Homo sapiens: one gene and its partners. The protein of the gene in region 1 interacts with the protein of each later gene in a pairwise test. Each region holds a gene or a part of one and is shown on either strand. Other genes may lie near its edges.

Evidence for each region.
Region 2: the proteins of DTNB (region 1) and FAM167A interact in binary tests that used the Homo sapiens proteins (3 or more experiments, as listed by UniProt).
Region 3: the proteins of DTNB (region 1) and CCDC88B interact in binary tests that used the Homo sapiens proteins (3 or more experiments, as listed by UniProt).

Annotation. Positions count from the first base shown.
Region 1 is NC_000002.12:25,621,568-25,628,651, forward strand, and holds part of DTNB (dystrobrevin beta), read right to left. Parts: intron 6,818-7,084; coding exon 6,604-6,817; intron 1-6,603.
Region 2 is NC_000008.11:11,463,754-11,471,314, reverse strand, and holds the start of FAM167A (protein FAM167A), read left to right. Parts: upstream 1-4,561; 5' UTR 4,562-4,689; intron 4,690-7,561.
Region 3 is NC_000011.10:64,350,204-64,357,203, forward strand, and holds part of CCDC88B (coiled-coil domain-containing protein 88B), read left to right. Parts: intron 1-956; coding exon 957-1,052; intron 1,053-1,272; coding exon 1,273-1,413; intron 1,414-1,926; coding exon 1,927-2,183; intron 2,184-2,540; coding exon 2,541-2,684; intron 2,685-2,850; coding exon 2,851-3,037; intron 3,038-3,147; coding exon 3,148-3,293; intron 3,294-3,511; coding exon 3,512-3,610; intron 3,611-3,800; coding exon 3,801-3,967; intron 3,968-4,990; coding exon 4,991-5,197; intron 5,198-5,356; coding exon 5,357-5,425; intron 5,426-6,835; coding exon 6,836-6,891; 3' UTR 6,892-7,000. UniProt on the Homo sapiens protein: Acts as a positive regulator of T-cell maturation and inflammatory function.

The DNA.
Region 1 (7,084 bases):
TCCCTAGGATTACAGGCATGCACCACCACCATGCCTGGCTAATTTTTTTTTTTTTTTTTTTTTTTTTTTAGTAGAGATGGGGTTTCTCCATGTTAGTCAGGCTGGTCTTGAACTCCCGACCTCAGGTGATCCGCCTGTCTCAGCCTCCCAAAGTGCTGGGATTACAGGCATGAGCCACTGCACCCAGCCTAAACCAACATTTTTAAATGGTTGTTAGCCACATTTGCAAACTACACAGGAATTTTTTCATATAACTCTATTATAAATTATATAAGTATCTTTACACCAAAGGAATCTTTCGATTGTTCAAATTAGCAAGAATGTTTTCTACTGAGTGTTATTGTAGATGGTAAACAATAACCCTAGGCCTTTAAATGATGTGTTCAATACCGTATTTTGTATTTTTTAAGATTTAGATGTATTTTACAGACTTTGTCCAAACTAGTTTCATTAGATACATCATTTTTTTTTTTTACCAGTTTATTCCATTTTTAAGGTGAAATTTCATTCTATTTCTGAACCAACACTTTTGGTAAAGGCCACAGACTCATTTGTAAAACATAAATGGATGAAATATATCAGAGGAAAAAATAAGATTCAACAGTCAGAAATAAAGTATAAGAGCAATCTGGCCGGGTGCAGTGGCTTATGGCTGTATTCAATCCCAGCACTTTGGGAGGCCAAGTCGGGTGGATCACTTGAGGCCAGGAGTTTGAGACCAGCCTAGCCAACATGGCAAAACCCCGTCTCTACTGAACATATAAAAATTAGCCAGGCGTGGTGGCGTATGCCTGTAGTCCCAAATAGGAGGATGAGGCATGAGAATCGCTTGAATCCAGGAGGTGGAGGTTGCAGTGAGCCAAGATTGTGCCACTGCACTAGAGCCTGGACGACAGAAAAATAAATAAATATATGTATTTATTTCCATCTTTGTACCTTGACTAACATACCTTTATAATGGCCAGAAATGTCATGTTCAAATTTAGAACTGTAAGGCACCCCATACTCCTACGTGGGAAGAACCTGATCCCCTTTTCTTCCCACCTCCAGCACATCCCATGCTTGAAAGGACTATGCATGCATGTGAACACTCTAGCCCACATGTCCAAGTTCTGCCCACATTCTCAGCAAACATCCACTCCTTGGCTAGTCCTTAGACACAGGGATACAACTACTTAGAAAAACAAAACAAAACAGAACAACATACACCAGGTTTGGAAGCATAAGTCCTAGAACAAATGGACCAAGAATTTAAAACTAAGAATAAACATGTTTAAAAAGACAATACGAAACAAGAACCACAAATCCCAAAAAAGAAAAATCAGATATATTACATATAGAAAATATAATAGCTAAAGAAATAACAGATGGAATAAACAGTAGGATGGCTCCAGAGGAAGAACAAATTAATGAGCAGAAAGGCAGATCAATAAACTCTTCCAAAAGGAAACAAAGTTAAAGAAATTAAACCATATGTGAGGAACACTAATAGATAAAGAGGAAAGAAGTAGAAATGCCAACAATCAGAAAACGAGAAAACAAAAACAGAGGAAATATTTGAAGAAATAATGAGCTTCTGGTAATAGCACCCTAGGTGATTCTGATCAACTCTTCCTCTGAGCAAAAAAGAAAAGATGGGGAAAGTTTTAAAAAATCTCCTTGAATATAAATTGTTGAGAACTAACAACTGAAGTTACCAAATGCAGGAGAGGCTGGATGTCCAGGGAGGTGAGTGCAATGGATGAAATCACTTTTTCCATGTAAGTGATTTGATTCCAGAGGGGGAAGCAAAATTGCTGAAGTATAGAGTAACTTTTTGATGGTACTGGGGACAAGGAGAAAGACATGGAGGCTTGGACTTGCCAAGGCAGAAGGGGTCCCTTGGCAGGACACGTGGTCCTGCTTACCCTACTCTCCTATTAGTTTGGGCTCAGAGCCCAAAGGCTTCACCTAAAGGTAATCGTGTCCAGAAGTAAACAGGTCCTCACATGTACTGATTAAGAAACTGAATTGACGTGATCCTGGATTGTTAAGGTCTCCAGGCACCTGGAAGAAGCAAACACACATCCTTTCTTGAAGAAAACATCATCCTAGGCCTCAAATTATCCCTGCAAATAATTCTGCAATATAATGTTTGGTATATAATAAAAATAATTTTGCTATATAATGTTCAGCCTATAATAAAAAATAACAAAGCAAATAGGAAATAAAACATCATTAATGAAAACCAGAAACAACAAACAGTACAAAAAGAACCACAGGAAATCTAGATATTAGATTGTAAGTGTAAACCAAAAATAAAATTCAAAGGCCCCCTGCAACCATCTGAGTGGACTCCCTCCTGGGCCAGGGCACTCTGAAATTTAACCAGAAAGACTGGTTAAGGCCATGATGGGAAGCTGGGGATGGACATGCCTCATGATACCCTCCAGTGTTAACATCAACACAGACCTTAAGTCTGAGAAGAAACATCTACAGTCTATTCTCTCTAGAGCCTACTATTTGCAGGCTTCATCTGTGTGATAAAACCTAGCTCTCCACAACTCTTTATCATAACTCTTTCAACCAACTGCCAATCAGAATATGTTTAAATCTACCTATGACCTGGAAGCTCCCTGTCCCTCTTCAAGTTGTCCCACCCTTCCAGATCAAACCAATGTAAATCTTAAGCGTATCTGATTGATGTCTCATGTCTTCCTAAAATGTATAAAAGCAAGCTGTGCTCTGACCACCTTGGGCACACATTGTCAGGACCTCCTGAGGCTGTGTCATGGGTGTCTAAAAGATGGGTACTTCTGCTCGGTGTTCAAAGAAGCCAACTCTTCCTTAACCTCAACTTCAAAGAGGAGGCATTTAGTAGAAGCTGCTCACAGGGATTTTGTGAAGTCAGCCTAAGGATGGAGCTGATACAAGAAGGGGGCAAAGCCGCGCAAAGAAATAAAGCCAGAGCTCTGATGCAACCAAGATGAGGGGCTGGCCTGCCTCTGGACCCCTCAGTTTGTCAGCCTATACACATGTTGTTATGAAAAGGCCATGTGGGTAGGCTTTTTACAGCTAAAGACACTGGACTAACACAAAGGTTGGAAATAGAAAGGGGATTTTTAAGTAACAAACCTTAAAGTGTGAAACTGGCTCAGCTATAGAAGAGTAAGGAAGACCTCCTCTATCTCATGCTGGGAATTTGGATATCGTTATTATATTGGTTAAAGCACCTTTGTTGTACCTTTGCACCAGACTGTATGACTACCAATAACATTGTACCGGAGAAACTGAGAGGAAAAAAATGCAGCTATCAGTGTTTTCACAACTCCTTGTGGCTTTCACTAAGATTCTACACCCAGGTGTTTTGTGAATATTGGTCTCTGTGCTTTTCAATGTTTTTAATTATCAAAATATAACATATTCAGAACTCTCAGTATTAAAAAAAATTAGGTCTTAAGAAAATACTTAAGGAAAAGTCTTAGATCCTATTTGTTCCTGACCGTTGTTGTAGGGTCTTATACTCTCTTATTATAATGATCAGAAATCATCTGGCCAAACACAGGGACTATAAATTTGGAGGTGAGAGAAGATTAAATAATTTTTGCTTTCAAACTTTAACCTTATGGAATTATGAAATACAAAGGCTGGAAGCCTCAATTAAAATAAATAACTAGGTTGTCTATGTATAAAAGGAACTCTCCAGCCTAAGTAATAAAGCGGCCAATCAATAAAAAGACTAACATTTGAAGTATTTAACGACAAAATGCCCTGGTTTTCAAAATTAACATTCTGATAACCAGATTCTTTCTTTTTTTCCAACACAAGAAGGTCAATTTTAAGCTTCCAGATAGCCAAATAAGCTCTATTATATAAAGGTATCAAAGTTAGTAAAGATGTGATCATTTATTCTGATACCATGGTCTATGTTTTAAACACATCAAAGTAAAAATTACCCAACTCACTAATAACATACTATACCCCTTACTCTTCTTAACTCACTCATTTTTTTTTTTTTTTTTTTTTTTTGCTAGTTATTTTCGGTGTGTGTTTCTACACATCTGCCTTCAACTGATTCACTGTCCACTTATTCTCGTCTCTCTGTATGTGTCTAGCTTTCTCGGAATATGGCCCAGGATATCCTTGTACCTTCTGCTTCTGAGTTTGGTCCTCCCATTCTCCCTTTTGCCATCTCTGCCCTCTTCCTTCCTCTCCCTTCTTTAGCCATATGCTATAACCTGAATGCCTGTGTTCCCCAAAATTCACATGTTGAAATCCTAACCCCCAAGGTACGGTATTAGAAGGTGGGACCTTCTGAAGATAATTAGGTCACGAGGGGGTCCTCATGAACGGGATTAGTGCCCTTATAAAAGAGGTTCCCGAGAACTCCTTTGCCCCTTTGTCATGTGAGGATACCACAAAAAGGTGCCGTCTAGGAGCCAGAAAGGAGGCCCTCCCCACACACAGAATCTACCTTGATCTTGAACTTCCCAGCCTCCAGAATTGTAAGAAATAAATCTGTGTTGTTTATAGAGAGTCCAGTTCATGGCATTTTGTTAGAGCAGCCCAGTAGACTAAAGCGCCATAGTATTTAACTTACTTGACATGATTATGGAATCCAAGATTTTAATCTCTGCTTGACCATTTTTAGACAGTAAGATGGTTTTAATTTCTGACTTTAAAAAATATTGTTTCTTGAGTTAATTTGTGTTGTGTGACCCATGAATTGGTTTACTGAGTGAGTCAGTGTCATGATAAGGTGCTGCTTACTTATTACAGAATAACAATTTTTACTAAGGGTTTTGAAACAAAAAGACAGTTCCTGAGCAGGAAAAAATTAACCTATGGAGTCACTAACTAAAATTACTAAAAAATGGCATTAGAATTCTGGGACTTATGACACTTACACACTCTTATTTTTAAAATTCAGATTTCTGCCGGGCACAGTGGTACACACCTGTAATGCCAGCTACTAGAGAGGCTGGGGAGGGAAGACTGTTTGAGCCCAGTAGTTAGACCAGCCTGGGAAACACAGCAAGACCCCATCTCAAAAAAATAAGTAAATTTCTTTAATAATTTTCTATTAAACGGATACAATGTCTAATCTGATAACGGCTTATAAAAATGGTGTGAATTTAGTGAGTGCTTAAATTATGACTTGGCTTTGACATTTCCATAGTGTTACCACTAATTCACAGACTCCTCCCTATTATAAGATATAACTAATAGCATTTTACAAATGTATGAACTCAAAGAAGGTCTACAGACAGCAAAAAATGAAGCAGAGACAATCCATTCAAATCAGATGGCCAAGAGTATAGCAGAAACTGGAACTCTTGGTTCACAGAACATCACCATTTAACCTCTGTACTTCCACAATCATAAATCTGTGCTTTACAATTTTGTTGTTTCATTCTTTACAATACCAACTCAATTCTCTACGAATATAAGTGCAGCAAATCATTTCCGTTTTAATTGGAGTACATTTAAATAGTTTTCTTCTTTTGTTTCAAGATCTACTAAACTATGTTCTGCAATGAAAAAATTTAAAATAGGTTCCTAGACATAAAGAGAAAATCTGTTTGGCCAGGTGTGGTGGCTCACACCTGTAATCCCAGCAGTTTGGGAAGCCAAGGTGGGCGGATCACCTGAGGTCGGGAGTTTGAGACCAGCCTGACCAACATGGAGAAACCCTGTCTCTACTAAAAATACAAAATTAGCTGGGCGTGGTGGCGCATGTCTGTAATCCCAGCTACTTGGAAGGCTGAGGCAGGAGAATCGCTTGAACCCGGGGGGTGGAGGTAGTGGTGAGCCGAGCTTGCACACCATTGCACTCCAGCCTGGGCAACAAGAGAGAAACTCCATCTCAAAAAAAAAAGAGAGAAAATCAGTTACTATAGTCCAATATTTGATGTTACAGAGTAAAGATTAGCCTTCTGAACAAACTAGGCATAGAAGAAAAAAGAAAGAGGAGACTTAGAAGTCAAATAGAAAGCCCCATAATCAAATTCAAAACTTAGTGTTTTTCATGAGCTGGAGGACAGCTGTATTAAGGTATCTATAATTTTCCCAAACAATACATCTCAAATGTGATTCTCCACAATATTCCAGAGTTTAATATATGACATACTCTAGGACAGTAAGTCACTGTGAACCAGTTTCTAGAGGGGCTTACACCGAATAATTTTCCTTTTTTTTTTTTTTTTTTAAGACAATGTCTCGCTCTGTCGCCCAGGCTGGAGTGCAGTGGTGCAATCTCTGCTCACTGCAACCTCTGCCTCCTGGGTTCAAGCAATTCTCCTGCCTCAGCCTCCTAAGTAGCTGAGACTACAGGCGCCCACCACCACGCCCGGCTAATTTTTTGTATTTTTAGTAGAGACGGGGTTTCACCGTGTTAGCCGGGATGGTCTCCATCTCCTGACCTTGTGATTTGCCCTCCTTGGCCTCCCAAAGTGCTGGGACTACAGCTGTGAGCTACCGTGCCCAGCCAATAATTTCCCTTTTAATCATGATTCTAAGTTGCCAGCTTAGCAAGGCAACTTAGCACGGCAGTATGGAAGAAGAATGATTCAGAGACAGGTGTTCTTAAAATGAAGTAAGCGTGTAAGGTAAGGTACTACTAGCCTGTCATATGCAGCAATCATAAAGTTGAGGAGGAGGCTGATAGATTGTTCCACACTAATTTGGTGAGTAGAAGGAAGGCGCTTGTTCAACTGATAGTAGATGGAGGAGATGACAGTTTCGAGGCGGGACACACTGATCTCGGTGGTATGGTCCAGTGTATTAAGGCCATTGTCTCGGAAGGCTTCAATCATGTTCCAGATATCAACAAGATGAACTAAAAGACAAAGAAAATAAACTGTCAACAATTTTAAAGTGTGGTACTACCCTTCACAATAGGAATCTAAAATTTATCAACTAGTTCTTAAGTTTAAAGAGAAGAAACTCTTTAGCCAACAATGAGGAAAACATTCTGTGGTCAAATAAAGAACATCAGTCCCAGACAACATCAAGGAGCCACCACAGCGGTATGGGAAGGACTACTTCCAGCCTTCACATTTAAATAGCGAGTATTTCACGTCTCTGCAAATAGTGACCCATGCAA
Region 2 (7,561 bases), on another chromosome or scaffold:
GTTGCGCCGAGCCCTGCAGCTGTGCCCTTGTGCCCGCCACTCCTCACCTCGGCCGCTGAGCAACCTCCTGCTCTGCACAAAGCCTCCGCACATGCCCTTCCAGATGCAGTTCCCTCTGCTGCCTCAGAGTGGGCACCTCTCCTAGCTGAAGCCCACTCCTCCGCCTCACCTAGGCTCAGGTGGAATCTGTCACCTCCCTACTCCAGCACTAAGGTGGACGCTCTGTGTGGTGACTGCTCTGTTAATTATCTTCCTACCAAAAAGCCACGTGCGCCACACTCCCATGTCTAGCCCCCGGGTGGCACAGAGCCAGCCGCCCCTAAATGGAACTAACAGGTTCCCTAGAAGACAGAAAGCTGGCCCTCATTGTCCTTCTGAACTTCAGCCTGAATCAGCCTCTTCTGAGAGATGAGAGCAGGGAGGAGCCATTGCAGCTGAACATGCCTAAGACAGTCACTTCCCGCTTCTTCTTGAAACTCTGGGCCCACGGATGGACAAGTCCCTTCACAGGAAAACAGCAGAGACCGGTGGACTCTGGCCCTGGGCTGAGAGTCTTCATTGCTGCCTGGAGCAGGGCAGGGATGTCGCCACCCTTAGTGTCCTCTGTCCCACAGAGCCCAACAGAAATTTCATCCTTCCTTCTCTTGTATCCCTAGAATCCAGGAATCGCCTTCAAGTAGCTTATAGACTCAAAAGGGATCAGGAGAGACTGATTTAGAGAGGGCTTTGTGCCCTGAGAGTGACAAGAGAGCAGAGTCTGGTTCCAGCTGTGCATTTGGAGCTCCCCTCGGGGGAAGGCCAGTCCTCACGAGGTCTGCCAGGCCCAAGGGCTCTGCCGCAGCACCTGCCCTGCCCTGTCTCTGATGTCATCTCCCACCCATGCTCTACTCCCTGCCTGCTGCATTCTGGCCTCGAGGCATCCATGCTGGCCCCTGATTGTGGCAGGCACGTTTGTTGGCCCAGGGCCTCTGCACTGACCCTTTCCCTAGAACACCCTTCCCCAAGACACCACAAGACCCCCTCCATCGTCTCCCTCAAATCTTTGCTAGAAAACCACCTTATTAGCGAGGCCAGCCCTGCCTACCTTGCCTGAAAACGTGCACACTCTTCCCCTCCTCTGCCATTACTTCCAATCCAAGTCTACAATTCTGTTTTTCTATCACTCACAATATTGCTTATTTACTTAGCGTATTTGTCGGTCATCGTCTGCCTGCTTTCCTCTGCTAGATTATCAGTTCTCAAGGGCGAGGTCCTTCATCTAACTTGTTCACTAACATTTCCCAAGAGCCTAGAACAATGTCTGGTATTTAGTGGTACTAATACGTATTTATTGAACAGATGAATAAACGAATTGGGAGAAATTCTGAAAGAATATTTTAAGTTTAAATCTTTTATTTATTTATTTATTTATTTATTTATTTATTTATTTATTTTTGAGACAGGGTCTTGCTCTGTTGCCCAGGCTGGAGTGCGGTGGTGCAATCATGGCTGACTGCAACCTTCAACTCCTGGGTTCCAGCAGTCCCACCTCAGCCTCCCAAGTAGCTGGGACTTCAGGTGTGTACCACCATGCCCAGCTGAGTTTTCTTTCTTCTTCTTCATTTTTTTTTTGTAGAAGTGGGGTCTCACCATGTTGCCCAGGCTGGTCTCCAATTCCTGGGCTCAAGCAATCCCCCTGCCTCGGCCTCCCAAATTGCTGGGATTACAGGTGTGAGCTACCATGCCTGGTTGGGCATTTTTCTTGACTCATCTATTTCACAGCTTCCTGTAGGATTATAAGAGGCAATGTCTCATGCATCATGCACCAACGGAAAGAAAACTTCTCTGTAAGGAATCAAAGGGAAGAGAGAACCTCTAGGTGGCCTTGCCTTCTCTGGCCCACCCAGATCCTCCCACCATCACTGGGTTTCAGTGTGCCTGACACAAAAGGAAGTGCCATCAGAAACACCAACACAGTGCCATCTTCCCTTTTGAGTAGTGTTTCTTGATGTTTCTCATTACAAAACGATTCATTGTAGAAAACGAATGCAGGCTTACAGAAGACATTTTAAATCCTCCATTATCCTGCAGCCCAGAGATAACGACAGCTAATATTTGCATACACTCTTCCAATCTTTTTTCCATGCATACATATGAATTAGATATTGGAATGAGAAGTTTCATAATGTACACAGGATTTGGTGTCCCAGTCTTATTTACTTAGCGTTAAATCGTTAGTATTTTTCTATATGATCAAATAGCTTTTGAGAATATTATTTCTATGGCTACATACCATTCTGTGCTAACTCATTTATTTGACCACTCCATATGATTTCACTTTGGAGTTGAGGCTACTCCAACCAAGACTGCTCTTCCTCCTCCCCTTCCTCTTTCCTCTGGCCCACTCTCCTCCTGGTCCCCATCACTGATTACCCTCCTGCCCGCAGACAAATGCCAGGCAGAATGGGAGCCACAGGGCAAGACACCACCCTTGCCTTGGACAGGCTGCCTGTCCATTTGAGGCATGCCACAATTCCCCCATGAGAAAGCATCTGCACTCCCAGAAATAGAAGCCATAGGTCAAACAGGGAGCCAGGAGGTAGAGGTGGGACAAAGCATTTCCAGATGGGGCTGAATGGCCCATCCAAAAAGATCTTGGAGCATTCACCACGTGCCAGGGCCATGGGCACACCAGTGAGCAATGCAGCCAACTAGGGCTCAGCACCGGGGCTGTGGTCAGAAACAGCCAGCACCCAGAAGGATGCTTTATCCCCAAGTCCAGATTGAGGCTCCTGCTTGCAAACATGGTTCATGCCCTTCCGGAGCCTACTGCCTCAGAGGGAGACACATACTAATCAAATAACCTCACAGGTAAACTTGGAATTATAACTGGTCCATGAAGGACATAAGGCAGGGGGCTGCCAGCACCTGTAACCTGGGGTTCCCTTAGGAGGCAGAGCTGCAGCAGCCTGTCGGGAGGAGCAGGTGCACAATGGGACTGGAAGAGGGTCTGTTGTCTGGGGAGCAGGGTCTGTGCAAGACAAGGCCCTAGAGACGGACAGAGGCCAGCCAGGCCCCTGCAGCCAAGCTAGCTGTTAATCCTCAGAGGACTGGGGGCGTTGAAGGCCTTTAAGCAGAAGCAGCTGAGACTGGATTTCCATTCTTAAGAGTTTCCCCTGTTTGTGGAGGAGTAACTGGCTTGGGAGGCGCTGAGAGAGGGTAAAGGGAGATCAGTATGGAGACTGCGTGCACGCTTGGACCCGGGTGGCAGGTCCCAGAACTGGGTAGGGCAAGCTGCTGGTGGCTTGGGTAGGGACAGTGGCAGCGGGCAGGAAGAAGGAAGGAGTGATGTTTAGGAGCTGGAATCAGAAGATCTGGATCAAGGCTGTGACTCTCCAAAAGATGCTTGTTAATACACCCGCTAGCTTAGGACCGTTCCCTCATTAGCATGACTAGGTCTGTACTGGCAAGATGTCTCCTTAGACGACGTCCCTCAGAGGACCTTCCAGTGAAGGTCAGAAAGGAAGGGAGTAGGTCAGGGCTGGATGCGGAGTTGCAGTGAAGGACGCGGGCACCAGAGGGCAGCACGAGTGTCTCGGGCCCCTGCAGGGGCTAAGACCCCACAGAAGGCCCGACCAGCCGCGCACCTGCCTGGAGCCTGCGCCAGTCACTTTGCAGCCCCACCACTCAGCTTCGCGTCTGGCCATGTAGGCGGCGCCTGCGCGCACGCCCAGGGCTATCGTGAGAATGGCAGACTGGAGCCCTTTGAAAGACGCTTCCAGCCCCGGGCATCTAGGAAAGGTGCTTGATGAGGTCTGGGGTAAGAGACCCCCATCCAGTAACCAGCCTTGGGGCCTCCAGTGTCTGGCCTGGGCCCCTCGTCAGAAGCTGGGACTGGTCCTGAAGACCTGCGGTCCGGGCAGCTCGGGCTGCTGTCCTGCCTGTGCCTTAGGGTTTGCAGCTCTGGGCTCTGATGCAGCAGGGACTGGGTCTTAGAATCTAACGACAGCCAGAGGTGGCCGATGCCGCGCCCCTGGCGGGACAGACACCCTGTGGTTAGTGGGGCAAACGCTCGCGTCTTTGCACCTCAGTTTCCTCATCTGGCAGCCAGAGATGCCTACACTTGCCCTGCTGGGTCGTTGGGGGGCGTGGCCCACGGTAGGCGCTCGCGGGCAGTCGTGGCCGCGGGTCCTATGAACTCCTGCCGTTTGGGGGTGGGTGAGGCCCTGGGCGTGGGGTCCCCCTGCGCCCTCCATGCGGACAAACTTCTGACAGTGGCGCAGTCACGTTGCCACAATTGGGGGAAACTGCCTTGGTTTCGGGTTTAATGAGAAAATGGATGTTTGGGTTTGGTTTCATCTGGGGTTTGGCGAAGGCATGTAGTTCCTCTCCACTCGCGGGGGCTGCCCGGGCCGGTGAACCGACAGGGCGCTAGGACCCGGGGCGCGCTCGGACCCGGGGCGAGAACGCGAGGCCGGGATCGCGGTGAAAGGCTCGCGGCGGAGAGCTCGGCCGTCGCCAGGCAACCGCCCTGACGCAACGCAGGGGGAAAAAAAAAGTCCTTTCCGAAAGGAGCAGCGCCGAGAATTCACCGGAGCTCGGGGAGGCGAGGCGGGAGCCCTGAGCTGAGGCCGGGCAGCGCGGACCCGCGCAGGAGGAGGCGGCGGGGACACCGGCGAGTCCCCAGCAGGGCCCCTGGGCTCCCGGAAGGTGGGTTCGCGCCGGCGGCGGGGACTTTCCCAGGGACTGGGAGGTGTGGCCGCGGCGGGCGGCGCAGTCTGGGCAGGGGCTGAGGCGTCGCAGGTCCCCAGCGCGAGCACTGGCCCGGAGCAGCCCGATCCCAAAGCGCCCTGGAGGGGACGCGCTCCTACCGCCCCCCCGGGAGAGGCCGCTCATGCGCTCCCGCGGGTTCGCTGCCCTCCCAGAGGAGCCGGGCAGCCAGGGCTGGACTTCATCTCCTAGCTCCCTGCTGGCCGTGTCCGGGCTCGGATTCTGGGTGGAGGTTCGGGGTCTGCCGTCTGAGAGGGAGGGCCGCACTCAGCCTCTCCGGGTCCACTCCCAGGCGGCTGGTGACCTCCAAGCCCAGCCTGGCTCCTGTGTATAGGTTCAGTGAGATGGAAGTTTCTGTCCCCACGGATGCGGTCCCTAACTAATGGGAGGTGGCCCAGGGCACCTGGACCCAAGGGTGCTCTAAGGACCCAAGCCAGTGTGACCTGAGGGAACGGCACAGCCGCAGGGGCCCCCGGGAATGAGCAGGTCAGCCGTGAAGGTGGGCACCCTGAGTCACCGAGACACCGGAGCACAGACGGCGGGGGGGAGGGTGTCTTCTTCAGCCAAGTTAGGTTGGATGTATAGGTTTTCTGCACACCCGTTACTGCCTGGTTTTTATTCCCGGCGGGGCTTGGAGGGAATTCTGAGGACTGGGACCTCCTGGGAAGATCTGGAAGGAGGGTTGACTCTAGGTTGGGGGCTGGCCACTGCCGTATGCCTGCAAGCAGGTTCTCCCAAGTCAAGTTTCCACAAACTCCCCGTCATTGCTGGAGAATCCCAGAAGATGAGATCACGTCCTATCCACAGGGTTTTCACCAAGGGGCACATGCTCCAAAGCAGCTTCCCACTGACACAGTAGACACAGTCCTGCCCCTCACTAAGCTCGGGATGGAGCGTGGAGAGCGTGGACAAAGTCTTGGGAAAGCAGAGGTGCTGTGGCGCCTGTTGCCTGAGGGCGTTGGCAGGATAGGAACTTCTGCAGCGTGTTTTTAAGGAGCTTGGAAAGCAGCCATGGGCTGTGCTTGGAATGGATAAAGATGACAGCTCTTCTTTCTTGAGTGCATTTATGGACCATGCACTACTTAGAAACCCTTCGCATCCCTTGGTCACTCCATCCTCCCCATCAGTCTTCAAGGAGACTCTATTATCCGTTTTGCCAATGGGACTCTAAGAAATTGAGTGACCTGGTGTGGCTCCCACACCTGGTGAGAGAGCAGAGAGTCAGCCTCACGTGCCTGACTCCCGGGACAGTGCTCTCAGACGAAGGCTGCTTTGGGAAATCTGAGGCATCTAAGGCCCAGAGAGGGGCAGAAACCACTCACGCCCAGATGAAATGAGAACTGTGTCGTGGGGCTCATCTTATGACCTGAGAAGGTCCCCTGCCTGCTTGAGGAACCCTGTGGAGCCAGGAAAGCCATTTCTTCTATTAGGAGCTTGCAAGGCTGTGTTGTTGGGCCTGGCCGGCCTCAATTCTTCCCACCTGAAGCAGAAGAAAGGGTTGCTCCCCCACACCCTGTTCTCCTCCTTGCCTGCCCAGAGCCCCCAGACTCCCTGCGCACTTGCTCCTGTTCTTCTGGTCCTCGCAATTACATGCATGGATTTCTACTAAATTGCCAGTCCCCGCCTTCCTGTCTACTAGCTTGGCCCCCCTCCAGGAGGAACTCTGGCAGGGAAATAAATTAAGGCCATGCCTAACTATTTGCTGAGAGAGAGCCACAGAGCCCCAGGCCAATGAGGAAGAAACTACTTGCTAGGCTTCTCACACCCTGGCTGCTGTGTTCTCTAGGCAAATCTTGCTCACAGAAAGCCCCGTTGGCCCTACAGGAGCCCCGGTATTCCCAGAACCCTTTGGGAGCTGTGCTTTCCCAAGGGACTTGAGCTGCTTGCAAAGGCGGAAAATGAGTAACTGAGCACTTTGCTCCTGGTTTCCAGACCAGGGGTGGGAGAGCACGCACGTGCCACTAACTGGAAATCCCTTAGGATTAGCCTGGCTGGCTGTTACTGTGCAAATGCACCCCGAGACTTGGATTGCCATGTGGAGACAGGAAGGAAAAGCACAGACTGAAACAGACCTTGAGGGGCTGAGGATGGGCTACATGGTGGGCAGGGGGAGGTGGGGAGCAGGAAGGATGGGACAGGGTGGGAAAAGAGTTTAGGAGGGGCGGCAGGTGAGCCTCACTGGCTCTGCAATCACCTGTAGAGTCTGAGCTGCCACCGAGGGCCGTGTTGCCAGGATGAGTCAGGTAGGCCGCAGGTCTCAGCTTTTCCCTGGTTAGGACCGTTGCCCTGTCCATTAAAGGCCAACTCTTCCCCACCCTGACCCCTACCACTTCTCTCTGGAGAAGTGTTGGAGAGGAAGGACAAGCATGGAGAAAGAAGGTGAGCAGAGCAGTTCAAGGGGGGCTGCTCCCACCTCACCCCCTTTCCTTCTGCACACTGCCTGCCTGCTCATCTCTGCCAGGCAGCATCAAATCTCATCCATCAGCCACTCTCGAGAGGACTTTGCTGAGCAGTAGCCCAGTCTCCCTGTGGGCACAGCCGTCAAGGGGGCCTCTCTTCTCTAGCAGCAGCTGTCTAGCGTCAGGCTCCTCTCCATGCCAGGGCCCTGCCACGTGGCCTTAGCAAGCACATAGTAGCTCCCCCCAAGTTGTCATCTATAGTGGGGGGTGGCTTTGCTCCCCCACCACAAAGCTCTCTTCACTGAGGAATTTCCAGAAGGTCCCTCGGGTGCCCATAAGTGTGATCCTCCTCCCCAGCGGCCTTTGCAGAAACCTGAAGAGGATGAGGGTTCACCTTCTCCCACTGGGGGCAT
Region 3 (7,000 bases), on another chromosome or scaffold:
GGGAAGGTTTTGTGGAGAAGGTGGGGTTGAAACAGAGGCTTAGAGAAGGCCCCACACAGCAGCTCATGCCTGTAATCCCAGCACTTTGGGAGGCCAAGGCAGGTGGATCACCTGAGGTCAGGAGTTCGAGACCAGCATGACCAATATGGTGAAACCCCATCTCTACTAAAAATACAAAAATCAGGCCGGGCGTGGTGGCTCACGCCTGTAATCCCAGCACTTTGGGAGGCCGAGGCAGATGGATCATGAGGTCAGGAGATCGAGAGCATCCTGATGAACACCGTGAAACCCCATCTCTACTAAAAATACAACAACAACAACAAAAATTAGCTGTTAGCTGGGCATGGTAGTGGGCGCCTGTAGTCCCAGCTACTCAGGAGGCCGAGGCAGGGGAATTGCTTGAACCTGGGAGGAGGAGGTTGCAGTGAGCCGAGATCACACCACTGCACTCCAGCCCGGGTGACAGAGTGTGACTCCGTCTCAAAAAAACCCAAAAAAACAAAAAAAACCCTAAAAATTAGCCAGGCGTGGTGGCCCACATCTGTAATCCCAGCTACTCGGGAGGCTAAGGCAGGAGAATTGCTTGAACCCGGGAGGCAGAGGTTGCAGTGAGCCCAGATCACACCTCTGCACTCCTGGCTGGGTGGCAGAGTGAGACTCTGTCTCAAAACAAAAACAAAAAACCAAATAGTCTTAGAGGAGTAGTGGGATGGAGAAGTGTTATGAGCAGAAGGCTCTGCCGCAGAGAGACAGAAGTTGAGAAGGGCAGGGTGGTGACGGTGGAGCTTCAGGAACCAGGAGCAGGGACTTGTGGGATCCAAGGGAAGGCATGGGATTGGGGCGGGGTGGACTAGGCTAAATGCTGCTGGCAGGGCAGGTCCATAAGCGCAGGTCCTTGAGGCATCCCCAAGGCACTGCGGCTGTCCCGCATGACCTCCCAGGGACTCTCCTTGCAGCTGCGCCAGGGCCCCGCGGGGCTGGGGCCCAAAAAGCGTGCGGAGCCTCAGCTGGTGGAGACCCAGAATGTGCGGCTTATTGAGGTGGAGCGCAGTGTGAGTGTGGGCCCACAGTGGGCCCTGGGGAGGTGCCCCGTGCAGTGTGAGTGTGGGTCCACGGTGGACCCTGGGCTGGGGGGTATCCCGTGCAGTGTGAGTGTGGACTCACAGTGGGCCCGGGGGTGGGGGTGCCCCATGCAGTGTGAGTGTGGGCCTGTGGTAGGCACTAGGGGGTGCCCCCGCCACCTGGCTATTGCTAACCCCCACTTCTGGGCAGAATGCGATGCTGGTGGCAGAGAAGGCAGCTTTGCAGGGGCAGCTGCAGCACCTGGAGGGGCAGCTGGGGAGCCTGCAGGGCCGTGCCCAGGAGCTGCTGCTGCAGAGCCAGCGGGCGCAGGAGCACAGCAGCCGCCTGCAGGTGGGTGGTGGCCCGGGTGCCCATCCCTGCCCATGTACTGCCCCCTCCTGCTCCTTTTGGATCATCCTGTGGCCTTTTTCTATCCCAGCTCCCAGCCAGCTGCCCCACCTCTTCCCCAGTCTCATTTATCCTTGTCCTCTGACCCCAGCCACCATTTTGCACCATCCTCCCTGCCACTATCTCCTCCTACCTGCCGCCAGCCCCCACATCTACACCCATGTCGCCCTGCGCTCTCACTGTCCCAGCCCTCCCCTCCACAGGGCGCCATTAGTCCCATTCTGCCCTGTGCCCCTTCCGGACAGCCTGGCCCAGCCAGCCTCTGCCGCCTCTCCCCTGCTCACCATCAGCCTCTGGCTGGGGCTTGTACTGCCTGCTGTGCCCCCAGCCCTTTGCCTCCTCCACAACTCTCTCATTGTCTTGGGCCCTACCGTCTGCCCTTAGCCCCCCGCCTCTCACTCGATTTCCAGCCAGGGGTTCCTCCCCAGCAGCCCCTGCTTCCCTCCTCCATCCTAGGCCGAGAAGTCTGTGCTGGAGATTCAGGGCCAGGAGCTGCACCGGAAGCTGGAGGTGCTGGAGGAGGAGGTGCGGGCGGCACGGCAGTCCCAGGAGGAGACCCGCGGGCAGCAGCAGGCCCTGCTTCGGGACCACAAGGCCCTGGCACAGCTGCAGCGGCGGCAGGAGGCCGAGCTAGAGGGACTGCTGGTGCGGCACCGAGACCTCAAGGCCAACATGCGGGCACTGGAGCTGGCCCACCGGGAGCTGCAGGGCCGGTGAGCATCACCAAATGCCCAGCTCCTCCCCTGGCACCCCCTATCTGCCAGAGAAGACTCCCCTCAGCAGGTCTGACTCCCCATCAGGAAGCACCTCCACCTCCGCTCTGTGATGCCCCGGCCACTGCTGTGCCCTCTGGGGTAGCTGTGCTCCCCACACTTCTGGGTTGGGCTCCCCGTGGGGCTCACCTATTGGGAGTGGTGGGCACCTGGCATGGCATTCTGCCCAATGGCTTCCTCTGGGGGACCTAGGCTTAGGAGGTGACAGACCCCCCCGCCCCGGGTCCAGATAGTCCAGCCAGCTGCTTGTGGTGGCCATAGGTTCACACAGCCCTCTTAGCCCCTTGTCCATCCCAGGCACGAGCAGCTGCAGGCCCAGCGGGCCAGCGTGGAGGCACAGGAGGTGGCCCTGCTGGCAGAGCGTGAACGCCTGATGCAAGATGGGCATCGGCAGCGGGGCCTGGAGGAGGAGCTGCGGAGGCTTCAGAGCGAGCACGACAGGTGCCGCCCCTGCCACAGCCTCTAGCAGCTCTCAGTGGCCCCATCCTGAAAGTGGGTTGGGGGTGTGGGGTCCTGTCTGGCCTCCCCTCCCCGGCATAACTTCTCTGGCCAGCACTCGGACTGGGGACCCAGGTCCCTTGGAGAGCAGCTCTCCTTGCCTCCCAAGGGCTCAGATGCTGCTGGCAGAGTTGTCTCGGGAGCGGGGTGAGCTGCAGGGTGAACGCGGGGAGCTACGGGGCCGGCTGGCGCGGCTGGAGCTGGAGCGGGCACAGCTGGAGATGCAGAGCCAGCAGCTGCGCGAGTCCAACCAGCAGCTGGACCTGAGCGCCTGCCGGCTGACCACGCAGTGTGAGGTGTGGCTGGAGGGCCGGTGGGGGTATGGGCGTGTGGTGGGGCAGAAAGCCTAGACCCAGGTGGTCCTGAGCTGGGTCCCACCCTCCGAGCCATGGTGCCCCCCTGCCAGCTATTGACACAGCTGCGAAGTGCCCAGGAAGAGGAGAACCGGCAGCTGCTGGCTGAAGTTCAGGCCCTGAGCCGGGAGAACAGGGAGCTCCTGGAGCGCAGCCTGGAGAGTCGGGACCACCTGCACCGCGAACAGCGGGAGTACCTGTGAGTGGGCCGCCTGGGAGCGGGGTGGGGCCTGCATCCCCTTTGGGCGTTCCTGGGGAGAGCCCTTAGTGAGGGCCTAGGGACAGGGTTGGAGCTGACCTTCCAGGTCAGTCCAATCTGCGGCACGGGACCAGTGCGTCCTCGCTGCAGCTTGTGCCTTGCTACTGCCTCGGCCTCCCTGGGCCTCACACCCACCTCTCCCTTCTCACTCCTGCCAGGGACCAGCTTAATGCCCTGCGCCGCGAGAAGCAGAAGCTCGTGGAGAAGATCATGGACCAATACCGCGTGCTGGAGCCTGTGCCCCTGCCCCGGACCAAGTGAGCAGCCCTGTCACCTCCCTCAGGCTGGACATCCTGCTAACCTCTGCCCCTGCCCTGGCCTCTGACCCCAGGCCCAGCTCAGGTCCAGGCCCCATGAAGGTCAACCTGGCCTTTGACATCCCCAGGACACCCTTTGCTCCCTCCCTCCTCCCTGTCCTGACCCCCTCTTGTGCCCTCTTGCCCCCAGGAAGGGCAGCTGGCTGGCAGACAAGGTGAAGAGGCTGATGCGGCCCCGGCGGGAGGGGGGCCCCCCTGGGGGGCTGCGCCTGGGGGCCGATGGGGCTGGCAGCACCGAGAGCCTGGGGGGCCCCCCGGAGACGGAGCTTCCTGAGGGCAGGGAGGCAGATGGGACAGGTGGGTCTGGGGGTCAGGTGGCCAGGATGGTCCCTGCCCCACATCCTCTGTCCCCCACCTTGGCACCTGCCTCACTGCCTGGCCTGCATGCGTGACCCCATTGGCCTTCCCTGAGGCCTGCCCCCCCTGCCCTGATGCCACCAGGGGCTCTTTTCCCTGGGTCCTACAGGGTCACCCTTGGCCCACACCTCCCTCCTGCCTGTGCTGTCCCCGACCCAGCCTGCCCCATCCGCAGCGGAGCCCAGGATCTGGGAGGTGCAGTGGACTCTAGGGAGAGGTCATTGTTCCTAGACTGCAGATGAGGAGACTGAGGCCCCGGGAGGGGAAGCTTTTGCCCAAGGTCATGCAGTGAGTTAGTATGAAGGCCAGCACAGGGCCAGTGTCCTGCTGCCCCACTCATTTGCCTGGCTTCTCCCCCACCTCTGCACCTCCCCTCCCTGGCCCTGGGCAGCTTCACCCACTGGCCCCTCTACTCCATCCAGGGCCCTGTTCCTCTGACCCCCTCCCTGCATGAGCCTCCGCCCCCCCCCTCTGACCCCTCCCCTGCATGAACCTCAGCCCCCTCTTCTGACCCCCTCCCTGCATGAGACTCAGTCCCCGTTCCCTTCCTCTGACCCCCTCCCTGCATAAGCCTCAGCCTCCCCCCCTCCTCTGACCCTCTCCCTGCATGAGCCTCAGCCTCCTCCCCTCCTCTGACCCCCTCCCTGCATGAGCCTCAGCCCCCACTTCCCTTCTCTGACCTCCTCCCTGCAGGAGCCTCAGCCCCCCCGCTCCCCTCGTCTGACCCCCTCCCTGCATGAGCCTCAGCTCCCTCTCCCCTCCTCTGGCCCTCTCCGTGCATGAGCCTCAGCCCCCACTTCCCTTCTCTGACCTCCTTCCTGCAGGAGCCTCAGCACCCCCTCCCCTTGTCTGACCCCCTCCCTGCGTGAGCCTCAGCCTCCCCCCATTCTCTGACCTCCTCCCTACAGGAGCCTCAGCTCCCGTCCCCTCCTCTCACCCCCTCCCTGCATGTACCTCTTGCAGGGTCCCCTTCCCCGGCACCCATGCGCCGGGCCCAGAGCTCCCTCTGCCTGCGGGATGAGACCTTGGCAGGCGGGCAGCGGCGGAAACTCAGCTCAAGGTTCCCGGTGGGGCGAAGCTCTGAGTCATTCAGCCCTGGGGACACCCCTAGGCAACGATTCCGACAGCGCCATCCAGGCCCCCTGGGGGCGCCCGTCTCCCACAGCAAAGGTGAGGGACAAGGGTCACTGTACCAGCCAGCCCCCCAACTCTTTGTGGACCCACCAGCTCCTTGGGGGAGGAGGCTTCCTTCTTGTCCCCTGTGTCTCCTGCAAGCTCTGTCCACTTCCGCACTGGCCCTGGGCCCAGTGGTTGCCTTGTGCCTCCCAGGACCTGGTGTGGGATGGGAGAACTCCGCTGAGACCCTGCAGGAACACGAAACAGATGCCAACCGAGAGGGTGAGTGGGGGACTGTGGAAGGAGTAGTATTCTTTGTCCTGCCTGGGGCCCCTGGCAGAACCTCATTCATCCATTCTTTCATTCGACAATGATCCTTTACCAAGTGCCAGGTGACGTGCTGGCAGGGGACACAGCAGGGAACGTTCTGGTGTGAGGAGGCAGATAGTAAACAATTTGCCTAAAAATAATTATTATCTACAACAGCCCTGTCCACTAGAAATATGGTGTGAACCACATGATAATTTTAACTTTTCCAGTAGGCTTACCAGAAAAAGTGAAAAGAGACAGGTACAATGGATTTTAATAACATTTAACTCAATATGCCTACGCTATTACCATTTCAGCATGTAGCCAGTGTAAAAATCATGAATGAGCTATTAGACGTGATGTTTTTTTTTTTTTTTTGAGATGGAATTTCACTCTTTGGCTCACTGCAACCTCCTCCTCCCAGGTTCAAACGATTCTCCTGGCTCAGCCTCCCAAGTAGCTGGGATTACAGGCATGGGCCACCACGCCAGGCTAATTTTGTATAATTATTATTATTTTTTTTAGTAGAGACGGGGTTTCACCATGTTGGTCAGGCTGGTCTCGAACTCCTGACCTCAGGTGATCCGCCCGCTTCAGCCTCCCAAAGTGCTGGGATTATAGGTGTGAGCCACCCAGCCAGACGTGATTTTTTTCATAGTAAGTCTTTGGCAGTTTCGGAGGCCAAGGCAGGCAGATCACTTGAGGCCAGAAGTTAGAGACCAGCCTAGCCAAAATGGTGAAATCCCGTCTCTACTAAAACTACAAAAATTAGCCAGGCATGGTGTCCCATGCCTGTAATCCCACCTACTCAGGGGGCTGAGGCAGGAGAATCGCTTGAACCTGGGAGGCAGAGGGTGCAGTGAGCCAAGATCACGCCATTGCACTCCAGCGTTGGTGACAGAGTGAGACTGTCTCAAAAACAAAAAACAAAAAACAAAAAAACATAGTAGGTCTTTGAAGCACGTCACAGGCCAACCCCATCTCACCTACTTAGCTCCGCCCTGGGCAGCTCAGCCCTAGACCCGGCTGGACCATCAGGAGGCGCTAATGCTCTGGGAAGAAAGGAGAGCAGGGGAGGGGTCAGGAGCTCAGGAGCTCTGGGCAGGCTGGTTGGAGTTTTAGTAACTGGGGTGCTGGGGTGGGCCTCAGAGAGGATGTGAAATTGGAGCAAAGACTTGGAGGGGAGAGTTTGTCGTGTGGACATACCTGAGAACAGCATTCTGGGCAGAGGGAACCGCTGAGGGAACAGCAGGCGTGGTGCAGCTGGAAGCGGGGGGTATTGGCAGGTCGGGGGTGGGCAGAAGGTGCTCGAGCCTGTGGGCCTCCTGGGACTCTGGGAGTCCTCCTGAGGGAAGCAGATCTCAGCTGAGCCTTTCCCTCTAGGCCCTGAGGTACAGGAACCGGAGAAACGTCCCCTCACCCCATCCCTCAGCCAGTGACACCGTGGGAACAGCAGGCTTGGGAGTGCAGCCTTCTCGGCACTGGAGTGTCAGCGGAGGCCCCAGGCAGCCCAAGAGCTCAGGGAGCCAGGGACCCCAAGGGGAGTCC